2 separate regions of the Homo sapiens genome follow, and region 2 is linked to region 1. The links come from fine-mapping of genetic effects on gene expression. A gene starts in region 1. The other region holds a variant in brackets. All regions are shown on one strand. Distances are from middle to middle. Region 1 holds the start of WDR74 (WD repeat domain 74). Region 2 overlaps ZBTB3 (zinc finger and BTB domain containing 3).

Evidence for each region.
Region 2: its variant is fine-mapped to the expression of WDR74 in whole blood (TOPMed, PIP above 0.99).

The regions. Positions count from the first base shown.
Region 1 is chr11:62,836,483-62,841,832 of GRCh38, forward strand. WDR74 (WD repeat domain 74) reads right to left here and starts at 3,108. Exons shown (of 11, transcript NM_001369450.1): 1 at 3,025-3,108; 2 at 2,840-2,946; 3 at 2,632-2,753. The coding sequence starts at 3,088. RNU2-2 (RNA, U2 small nuclear 2) reads right to left here and starts at 5,327; the gene lies at 5,137-5,327. RefSeq lists enhancers at 2,532-2,661, 2,772-2,891, 2,952-3,291, 3,362-3,501, 4,132-4,301 and 2 more and silencers at 4,432-4,481, 5,202-5,321.
Region 2 is chr11:62,746,754-62,752,124 of GRCh38, forward strand. It overlaps ZBTB3 (zinc finger and BTB domain containing 3), which reads right to left. Exons shown (of 2, transcript NM_001370809.1): 2 at 4,210-5,371. The coding sequence ends at 5,337. Among named protein-coding and RNA genes, the nearest start is that of ZBTB3, 4.7 kb to the right of the region's middle. The variant T/G (reference allele first, on the strand shown) is at 2,871.

The sequences.
Region 1 (5,350 bases):
TAGGGCTTGGTCAAAGTCAAACACCAACTTCTTGGGTTCCTTGCTCTGAGTTTCAGGCACTAAATGTCAGTCTCTTGCTTAAAATATCCCTCCCGAGAAGTCCAAGCAAGTCTCTCCCCAGGATCTGCACAGCCTGCGCCTATGTTCTTTCTCACACCTGCCAACCCTCCCTAGCTGGGTTCGGGCTCTGTATCGACTTGCCTGACCTGTGGCAAAAGTCTCCCAGTTGCTGTCTCCAATCCATCCTCCATACTCCTACAGGCTCCCAGTGCTGACTATGGTACTTCCTATTCAAAAACTGATAACTTGGCCAGGCACAGTGGCTCACGCCTATAATCCCAGCACTTTGGGAGGCCAAGGCAGGCAGATCACCTGAGGTCAGGAGTTCCAGACCAGCCTGGCCAACATATAGTGAAATCTTGTCTCTACTAAAAAATACAAAAATTAGCTGGGTGTGGTGGTACATGCCTGTAGTCCTAGCTACTTGGGAAGTTGAGGCAGGAGAATCGCCTGAACCAGGGAGGTGGAGGTTGCAGTGAGCCGAGATCATGCCACTGCACTTCAGCCTCAGTGACAGAGCAAGACTCCGTCTCTCAGAAAAACAAAAACAATAAATGAATAACTCACCAACACCAATAAAAGTGCACATCTCTCAACCTAGCACTTAAAGCCCTTTACATTTAATCCCAACCTAATATAGTGTTCATCTTGTATTAAAATGCTTCCTTGGCCGGGTGCAGTGGTTCACGCCTGTAATCCCAGCATTTTGGGAGGCTGAGGTGGGCGGATTGCCTGAGGTCAGGAGTTCCAGACTAGCCTGGCCAACATAGTGAAACCCTGTCTCTAATAAAAATACAAAAAAAACTTAGCTGGGCGTGGTGGCGGATGCCTGTAATCCCAGCTACTCAGGAGGCTGAGGCAAGAGAATCGCTTGAGCCTGGGAGGCAGAAGTTGCAGTGAGCCGAGACTGTGCCACTGCACTCCAGCCTGGGCAACAGAGTGAGACTCCGTATATAAAAAAAAAACAAAAAACAAAAAAAAAAAAACGCTTCCTTGTTATCAACTTCCAAATCAAATGCTATTTATCCTATTTATGTACCCTGTAGCATGCCTCCAGTCCTTGGCCTCTCCCAGGCAGTACCCTCTTTCTAGAATACCCTTATCCCCTTCTCCACCAGTCAAAATTCTACCCATCCCTCAAGAACCAGTTCAGACATCCAGTCCCCCCCACAGGCTTTCCAGACCTCACCTGTCAGAATTACCACCACCAAACCTATGCAGCCTGCTTCACAGCCCTCTTTCATCATCTTTGGAAGAAAGCAAGGCCAGTCATCCAACCACTTAGCACCTTCCTAATCTTTGCTTTCAGAGCTACATCACCTTGTTGGTGGTTGAGCTCAAGTTGAGCCCAGGAGTTTGAGACTGGCCTGGGCACACAGTGAGACCCCATCTCTATAAAAAACTTAAAAATTTAGCTGGGCAGGGTGACACCTGCCTGTGGTCCCAGGTACTCAGGAGGTTGAGGCGGGAGGATCGTTTGACCCCGGGAGGTTGAGGCTGTAGTGAGCCATGAATGCACCACTGCACTCAAGCCTAGGTGACACAGTGAGGCTCTGTCTCAAAAAATATAAATGAATTAATAATGAATTAATGAATGCATGCTTAAAACTTTTTTTGTTGTTTTTTTTGAGATGGAGTCTTGCTCTGTTTCACAGACTGGAGTGCACTGGTGCGATCTCTGCTCACTGCAACCTCTGCGGGACGGATTCAAGCGATTCTCCAGCCTCGGCCTCCCAAGTAGCTGGGATTACAGGCATGAGCCACCACACCCGGATAATTTTTGTATTTTTTTAGTAGAGAAGGGGTTTTACCGTGCTGGCCAGGCTGGTCTTGAACTCCTGACCTCAAGTGATCCACCTATCTCGGCCTTCCAAAGTGCTGGGATGACAGGCATGAGCCACCACACCCAGCCTTGCTTAAAACTATTAAATGACAAGCAGGCACAGTGGCTCACGCCTGTAATCCCAGCACTTTGGGAGTCCGAGGCAGGTGGATCACCTGAGGTCAGGAGTTCGAGACCAGCCTAGCCAATACGGTGAAACCCCGTCTCTACTAAAGATACAAAAATAGCCGCGCGTGGTGGCAGACGCCTGTAATCCCAGGTACTTGGGAGGCTGAGGCAGGAGTATCGCTTGAACCCGGGAGGCGGAGGTTGCAGTGAGCCGAGATCGCGCCACTGCACTCCAGCCTGGGCAACAAGAGCGAAAACTCCGTCTCCAAAAAAAAAAAAAACAAAAAACAAACACACACACACACAAAACTATTAAATGACTTGCCCATGGTTACTTAGAGGATTATAATGGAGTCAGGTGAAAAACCTTAGAGGATGAGAACTTTTTGAAGGCAGAAATTTTACCGGCAGCCCCTGTACTTCTCCCAGTGCCTGGAATTCAGTAGGTGTTCAATAAATGTGTGTTACAGGTATGAACTACATAAGGCAGAAACCCAGGTCCCTGTCACCCATTCAAAGCCGTGTCACTAAGAGTTTGCCTGTCGCCATCATTCCAGTATCCTCAGGGAGCATCAACGCTCTCCCTTCGGCCCTGAGTTTAGCGAGGGGATTGGTCTTACCCGTCGGCCTGGGCGAGGCCACGGAACATGCCCTCCCCGCCCGGGCAGTGTCTCTGACCCTGGAATATGCCATCCTCGGTGCTGAAGTGCTTCACCGTCCTGTCCGCGCAGCCCACCAGCATCTGCGGCAAAGAAGGGCAAGATGGCGAGGAGAGCGAGGCTGCTGCGCCCCAGGCCCCCAGCTCCGGCCCGACCAGGGGCCACTCACCTGGGTCTCGCCGCCGGTGCCCCAACACAGGGCGCTCACTGCCTCCTCGCGCCGCGGCTGTCCTCCGGCCGTGAAGTTCGCCGCCTGTTTTCGCTGAAGATTTACCCCTGAGAGACGAAGGCGTCAGTCACGCCAGGGGCGCGAGTGCACCCCTGCACTTCCCGACGCCCGAGCCTGCCACCCACCTTTCAAGATCCCAGTCTCGGTGCCGACCCACACATGGTTCCAGCGTGCAGCAGCAGCCGCCATGACAAAGCCTGGAGGCAGACAGTTCACACTTCCGGCGCAGCGTGTGCGTCACCAGCGGGCGTCGAGTCCGATGCAGCGCAGTGTAGTTGCTGGAAGTTTGAAGAGCCGAAACAGTAAAGCTTCCATGCTTGTTTTGCTTTACGAAAATGAAACCAGGAGGTGCTTGTTTATGTAGATCGGAAGAATACATTGATCATTTTGCACTTGGGGGTGAAAAGCACCTTTCCTGGACTGCGTGGCCGGATCAAGCCAGCCCTAGTCTGTCTCCCGGCTCCATTATGTAATATGTGTTCTGGACTGTTAGACAAGAAACAACAAACGATTTAAGAAACGATTTAAGAAACACTTTAGAAACGATTCAAATCATTAATGATGTGTGGGGCTTCGTTCTGGAATATAAGTCACGAAAGAAAGATGGGAAAAGGAAACCGACGATTTTTTTTTTCTTTTGAGAGAACTTCGCCCTTGTTGCCCAGGCTGGAGTGCAATGGCGCGATCTCCTCTCACCTCAACCTCCGCCTCCCGGGTTCAAGCGATTCTTCTGCCTCAGCCTCCCAAGTAGCTGGGATTACAGCTGGTATTACTAAACCACCGCGCCCGGCCTCGTTTACTCTTCAAGAGGCGGACAGCGAGGCGCGGTGGCTCACGCCTGTAATCCCAGCACTTTGGGAGGCCGAGGCGGGCGGATCATGAGGTCAGGAGATCGAGACCATCTTGGCTAACACGGTGAATCCCCGTCTCTACTAAACATACAAAAACAAAACTAGCCGGGCGTGGTGGCGGGCGCCTGTAGTCCCAGCTACTCCGGAGGCTGAGGCAGGAGAATGGCGTGAACCCGGGAGGAGGAGCTTGCAGTGAGCCGAGATTGCGCCACTGCACTCCAGCCTGGGCGTCAGAGACTCCGTCTCAAAAAAAAAAAACAAAAACAACTAAAAGTACTCTGTGCTATGCTACATGAGAAACGCAGAGAAAGTCATCGCTCAGTAGAAATACAGTAATAGCGCATGCGTAAATAGGAGAGGGAAGTCGCTACTTTACCTAGAGATTAACACAGAAAAGCAACAAATTACCAGTTTACAAGTAAACCCTTTATCTAACGCGAAGATTTATTTATTTTTTGAGATGGAATCTTGCTCTGTCTCTCAGGCTAGAGCGCCCGCCACCAGGCCTGATTCACTTTTCTTTTGGTTTTTTAGTGAAGACGGGATTTTTCACACCATGTTAGTCAGGCTGGAATTACCCAATCCGCCCGCCCCAACCTCCCGAAGTGCTAGGATTTCACGCTTGAAACCCCGAGCGCGACCTAGGTTTAACACATCAAACGCGAAACCAGGCCGGGCGCGGTGGCTCACGCCTGTAATCCCACCACTTTGGGAGGCCGAGGCGGGCGGATCACGAGCTCAGGAGATCGAGACCATCCTGGTTAACACGTTGTGAAACCCTGTCTCCACTAAAAATACAAAACAGGCCGGGCGCGGTGGCTCACGCCTGTATTCCCAGCACTTTGGGAGGCTGAAGCGGGCGGATCACAAGGTCAAGAGATGGAGACCACCCTGGCCAACATGGTGAAACCCCGTCTCTATTAAAAGTATAAAAATTCGCTGGGCGTGGTGGCGGGCGCCTGTAGTCCCAGCCACTCGGGAGGCTGATGCAGGAGAATCGCATGAACCCGGGAGGCGGATGTTGCAGTGAGCTGAGATCATGCCATTGCACTCTAGCCTGGGCGACAGAGCAAGACGACGTCTCAAAAAAAATAAATAAGAAATAAAAATGGAAAACATTAGCCGGGGGTGGTGGCAAGCGCTCAATAGTTCCAACTACCCCAGAGGCTGAAGTATGAAGATTGCTGAAGACCACATGGAGATACTACGCTCCGTGCTCAGTTATAAAACAAAACCTTCTCTCAACAAGACACTCAAACACGCGTCATTCAACACACTAGCGATAAAAACACCTAATCCAACTCAAACAACAAGAACATAACTATTTAGCTTGTACCCTAACTGATCGAAATCTTCCATTAAACAACGGTTGTTCTCTCCCCGAAGGGAGAGTGCACCGTTCCTGGAAGTACTGCAATACCAGGTCGATGCGTGGAGTGGACGGAGCAAGCTCCTATTCCATCTCCTATTTCCAAAAATCCATTTAATATATTGTCCTCGGATAGAGGACGTATCAGATATTAAACTGATAAGAACAGATACTACACTTGATCTTAGCCAAAAGGCCGAGAAGCGATACCTTTACTTCGGTCGCCTCGGC
Region 2 (5,371 bases), 90 kb before region 1:
GCTGGTCTTGAACTCCTGACCTCCCAATAATCTGTCCACCTCGGCCTCCCAGAGTGCTGGAATTCTAGGTGTGAGGTGCCATTCCCGGCCTCAAGTGGAGGTTTGATAACAACTGGCAAAAGGAGGATTCAGTGTTAGACTAGAAATTAGATGAGCTGATCCCCAGGAGCCTATGGTTCCTTGAATCCCTGAATGGGAGCATTAAGACCAGTGGAAATGAGAAAGAATTATTGATCACATCTCTACAAATGGGCATAAACTGTTCCTACCATTCAGTAGATAAACTGAGGCCACAGGCTGGGTATGGTGGCTTATTCCTGTAATCCCAGCCACCGCTGCACTCCAGCCTGGGTGACAGAGGGAGACTCTGTCTAAAAAAAAAATCAAACTAAAAAAAAAATAATAAATAAAATGAGGCTGGGTGCGGTGGTTCACACCTATAATGCCAGCACTTTGGGAGGCCGAGGCGGGGCGGATCTGAGGTCGGGAGTTCCAGACCAGCCTGACCAACATGGAGAAACCCCGTCTCTACTAAAAATACAAAAAAAATTAACCAGGCGTGGTGGCGCAGCCTGTAATTCCAGCTACTAGGGAGGCTGAGGCAGGAGAATCGCTTGAACCCAGGAGGCGGAGGTTGCAGTGAGCCGAGATTGCACTGAGCCAAGATCATGCCATTGTACTCTGGCCTGGGCAACAAGAGTGAAATTCCGTCAAAAAATAGTAATAATAACGAGGCCACAGTGGCTGTAACTGTGATAGCTACTGCTTTACATATCTTGCAGGCTGGGCATGATGGCTCATGCCTGAAATCCCAGCACTTTGGGAGGCCAAGGCAGGTGGATCGCTTGAGCCCAGGAGTTTGAGACCAGCCTGAGCAACAGCGCGAAACGTCATCTCCACAAAAGATACAAAAATTAGCCATGCGTGATAGTGCATGCCTGTAGTTCCAGCTGCTTGGGAGCTAGAGGGGTTGAGGCTGCAGTGAGTCGTGATAGTGCCACTGCACTCCAGCCTCGGAAACAGAGAGACCTTGTCTCAAAATAAATAAATAAATTAATTAATTAAAATATTGCAAATTCCTGACTGCCACCTGCAAGAAAACATGCCCTTTATGCTGGATATTGAAAGCAAATGCTTGCTTCTCAGGAGAATCTCACCAGGAACAGAACCTCTTTAGCTAAGTAGTACATGTGACCACAGTCTGATCAATACAATGGTTCCTGTGTTCCCCAGACTGTCTGGAGAGATCATCTACATCAAAATTGTCTACACATATAGACCATTTATTATGCCTTGATTTTAAGAACTGATGTTCTGAGACAACCAGGTTTTTTTTTTTCTGTTTTGTGTTTCTGTTGAAATTGAGATATTCAGACCGTAAAATCCACCCTTTTAAGGGCAACTGATTCATAAAGGCATTTTGATTTGATATTTACTCTAGGGAAGACTTTTGAAAAGGTGTTCTACCCAGCTAGAATAGCTTTTATTGTATTTATTTATATCTTGCCTTGTTTCATCAAGGAATTAAAGCAGTAACGTACTTGCATAAATAAAATTAGGAGCCATTTGAAAGATAAGCTAGAAGTTTATTTCAACACAAAGAATGTGAAAGAATGTAGAATTCATTCAGCAGAAAAATGTTAACCATCTTTTGCTTCCCATATGTCCTAGTTAAGGAGCTTTCTTTAGCCACATGGCTGCTCACCTTTCCTTCCTGTAACTCAAAAATAGTCACTTGCTGGTAAGGGTTCACAGTGCTGAATATGACACAGACTCAAAAAGAGAGAAGAATATTTACTTGTCATTTTCCCCCTTTTCTTTTTTTCTTTTTTGAGATGGAGTCTCGCACTGTCACCCAGGGTTGGAGTGCAATGGCGTGATCTCGGCTCACTGCAACCTCCGCCTCCCGGGTTCAAGCAATTCTCCTGCCTCAGCCTCCCGAGTAGCTGGGATTACAGACGCCTGCCACCACGCCCAGCTAATTTTTTGTATTTTTAGTAGAGATGGGGTTTCACTATGTTGGCCAGCCTGGTCTCCAACTCCTGACCTTGTGATCCGCCCGCCTCGGCCTCCCAAAGTGCTGGGATTACAGGCGTGAGCCACCGCGACCAGCGTATTTCTGTTTTCCTTCCTGCTTTATTTGCACTCATGTCCTTACGTACCAAGAAAAAGTTTGTAGGCAAACCTTTAGGCCCTCCTACAGCACAGGCGGGGCCAGACTCCTCACACATTCCCAGAGCTCTTTTTTGCCCCCATCCCATGATGGCACCCCAAACTCCCATTTCTTTGCTATCTCCACTGTCAGTAACCACCTGCGTGACCTTAGGTGAGTAACCTAAACCTCCCTAGACTGTTGTCGTCACACTTTTCAAGTGAGGGAGTTGGACTACATGAACTGTAAGATCCTCTCATCCTGAGTTTCTCGCTTTAGGTTTTGCAAGTACCCATCATTGCCACAGCACCTCAGACCCTCAACCTCCCACCACTAATCAGCCACTATGGGCCTTAGTGTTTCCTGCCTTCCAGTTTCTCATCTTCAAAGAAGTCAATTCATATCTACAACTTGAGGCAAAAATTTCAGATCATCAATACAGTACCTGTTCTATCAACAAAAGGTCTTTCAGTGGGGAAAGCAGAGGTAACAAGGCAACAAAGCCAAATACACAAAAGGACAGAAAAAGAAAACAACTTACAGTTCTTGGTTAACTAAGTTCAACTTTTCATTATTATTTTATAGTGACAGGCAGGCCTCACTATGTTGCCCAGGCTAATCTGTAACTCCTAGCCACAAGCGATCCTTCACCTCAGCCTCCCAAAGTGCTGGGAGAACAGGCATGAGCCACCCCAACAGCCCTTCAAACAATGTTGTT[T/G]TTTTTTTTTTTTTTGAGACAGAGTCTCACTCTTGTTGCCCAGGTTGGAATGCAATGATGCGATCTCGGCTCACTGCAACCTCCGCCTCCCAGGTTCAAGCAATTCTCCTGCCTCAACCTCCTGAGTAGCTGGGATTACAGGCACCCGCCACCAAGCCTGGATAATTTTTGTTTTCTTTTTTTTGAGGTGGAGTTTCGGTCTTGTCACCCAGGCTGAAGTGCAGTGGCGTGATCTCAGCTCACTGCAACCTCTACCTCCTGGGTTCAAATGATTCTCCTGCCTCAGCCTCCCAGGTAGCTGGGATTACAGGCGCCCACCACCACTCCTGGCTAATTTTTGTAGTTTTAGTAGAGACGGTTTCACCATGTTGGCCAGTCTGGTCTTGAACTCCTGACCTCAAGTGATCCGCCCGCATTGGCCTCCCAAAGTGCTGTAATTACAGGTGAGAGCCACCATACCTAGACAATTTTTTTTGTGTTTTTAGTAGAGATGGGGTTTCACCATGTTGGGCAGGCTGGTCACCTCGGCCTCCCAAAGTGTTGGTATTACAGGCATGAGCCACCACACCTGGAAGAAACAATGTTTTTAACCAGTATAGCAGGCAGGGTGTTTGCAGTGGCAAGCCAGGTTCAAATGCTGGCTTGCCCCTTAACTAGCCTCTGTGACCCTGAACAAGTTAACTTTGATTTCTAAGTCTCAGGTTTATGAACAACAACAAACAAAACAGGAAGTGGACCTCATACCTCCTAATGTTGTTGAGGATTAAATGAGTATTTATACGAAATGTCTGATAAAGCCCAGAAGACAGCTCGACTGCAATAATAAATCATAATTTTATAAGCTTCCTTAATTTCTATACTTCTCCTAAGTAAAGGCTACATCGCCCTCTGCCTGTCCCACTTTTTTCCTCATGAGCAGTCTGACCCCTACCCCTACCCCTACCCCAAGTACAGATGTAACATTCCAAAAAGAACTGAAGGAGAGCCGTGGCTCACGCCTGTAATCCCAGCACTTTGGGAGGCAGAGGCGGGCGGATCATGAGGTCAGGAGATCGAGACCATCCTGGCTAACACGGTGAAACCCTGTCTCTACTAAAAATACAAAAAATTAGCCGGGCTTGGTGGTGGGTGCCTGTAGTCCCAGCTACTAGGGAGGCTGAGGCAGGAGAATGGTGTGAACCAGGAAGGCGGAGCTGGCAGTGAGCCGAGATCGCGCCACTGCATTCCAGCCTGGGTGACAGAGAGACTCCGTCTCAAAAAAAAAAAAAAAAAAAAAAAAAAGAACTGCAGGAGAGGTATGAAAGCATGCAGGTTTTTAGAAGAAACCAGCCAACACCAGTTCAAAGAAATACCTTCATTGCTAGCTTTATGTTCCAGAACATACAGTGAGAAGCGATTACACCTCAGGAAAATTCCCAGTGCCCTTGGAGAGAGCTGACATAGGCTTTGCCCCATAAAGTCCTGCTTATCTGGCTGGGCAAAGAAAAGGGTAGGAGGCTGGGCATGGTGGCTCACGCCTTTAATCCCAGCACTTTTTAAGGCCAAGGTGGGCAGATCACCTGGGGTCAGGAATTTGAGACCAGCCTGGCCAACATGGTGAAACCCTGTCTCTACTAAAAATACAGGAATTAGCTGGGCGTGGTGGCGCGTTCCTGTAATCCCAGCTACTCAAGAGGCTGAGTTAAGAGAATCGCTTGAGGCCAGGCACGGTGGCTCAAGCCTGTAATCCCAGCACTTTGGGAGGCTGAGGCGGGTGGATCACGAGGTCAGGAGATCGAGACCATCCTGACTAACACGGTGAAACCCCGTCTCTACTAAAAAATACAAAAAATTAGGCGGGCGTGGTGGGCCAAGATCGCGCCACTGCACTCCAGCCTGGGGGACAGAGTGAGACTCTGTCTCAAAAAAAAAAAAAAAAAAAGGAATCGCTTGAACCTGGGAGGCAGAGGTTGCAGTGAGCTGAAATTGCGCCACTGCACTCCAGCCTCAGTGACAGAGCAAGACTCAAAAAAAAAAAGGCAGCTGGGCGCGGTGGCTCATGCCTGTAATCCCAGCACTGCGGGAGGTGGAGATGGGCGGATCACGAGGTCAGATCTGTCAGAAGATCGAGACCATCCTGGCTAACACGGTGAAACCCTGTCTCTACTAAAAATCAAAAAAAATTAGCCAGGCATGGTGATAGGCGCCTGTAGTCCCAGCTACTCGGGAGGCTGAGGCAGGAGAATGGCGTGAATCGGGGAGGCTGAGCTTGCAGTGAGCCGAGATCGCGCCACTGCACTCCAGTCTGGGTGACAGAGTGAGACTCTGTCTCAAAAAAATAAAAGATTAAAAAAAAAAAAGGGTAGGAACTTTCAGCCTGGGCAGAGCCTTTATTCTTGTCACCCAGCAGGGGTGATAAGGTGCCACCAACCTTCTGAGCTGCCATCTAAGGATGGTAAGAGCAGCCTAGCATCAGCTCATGCTCCCTTAGATGTTAGTTTTTGGGGCCAATACAAAATCTT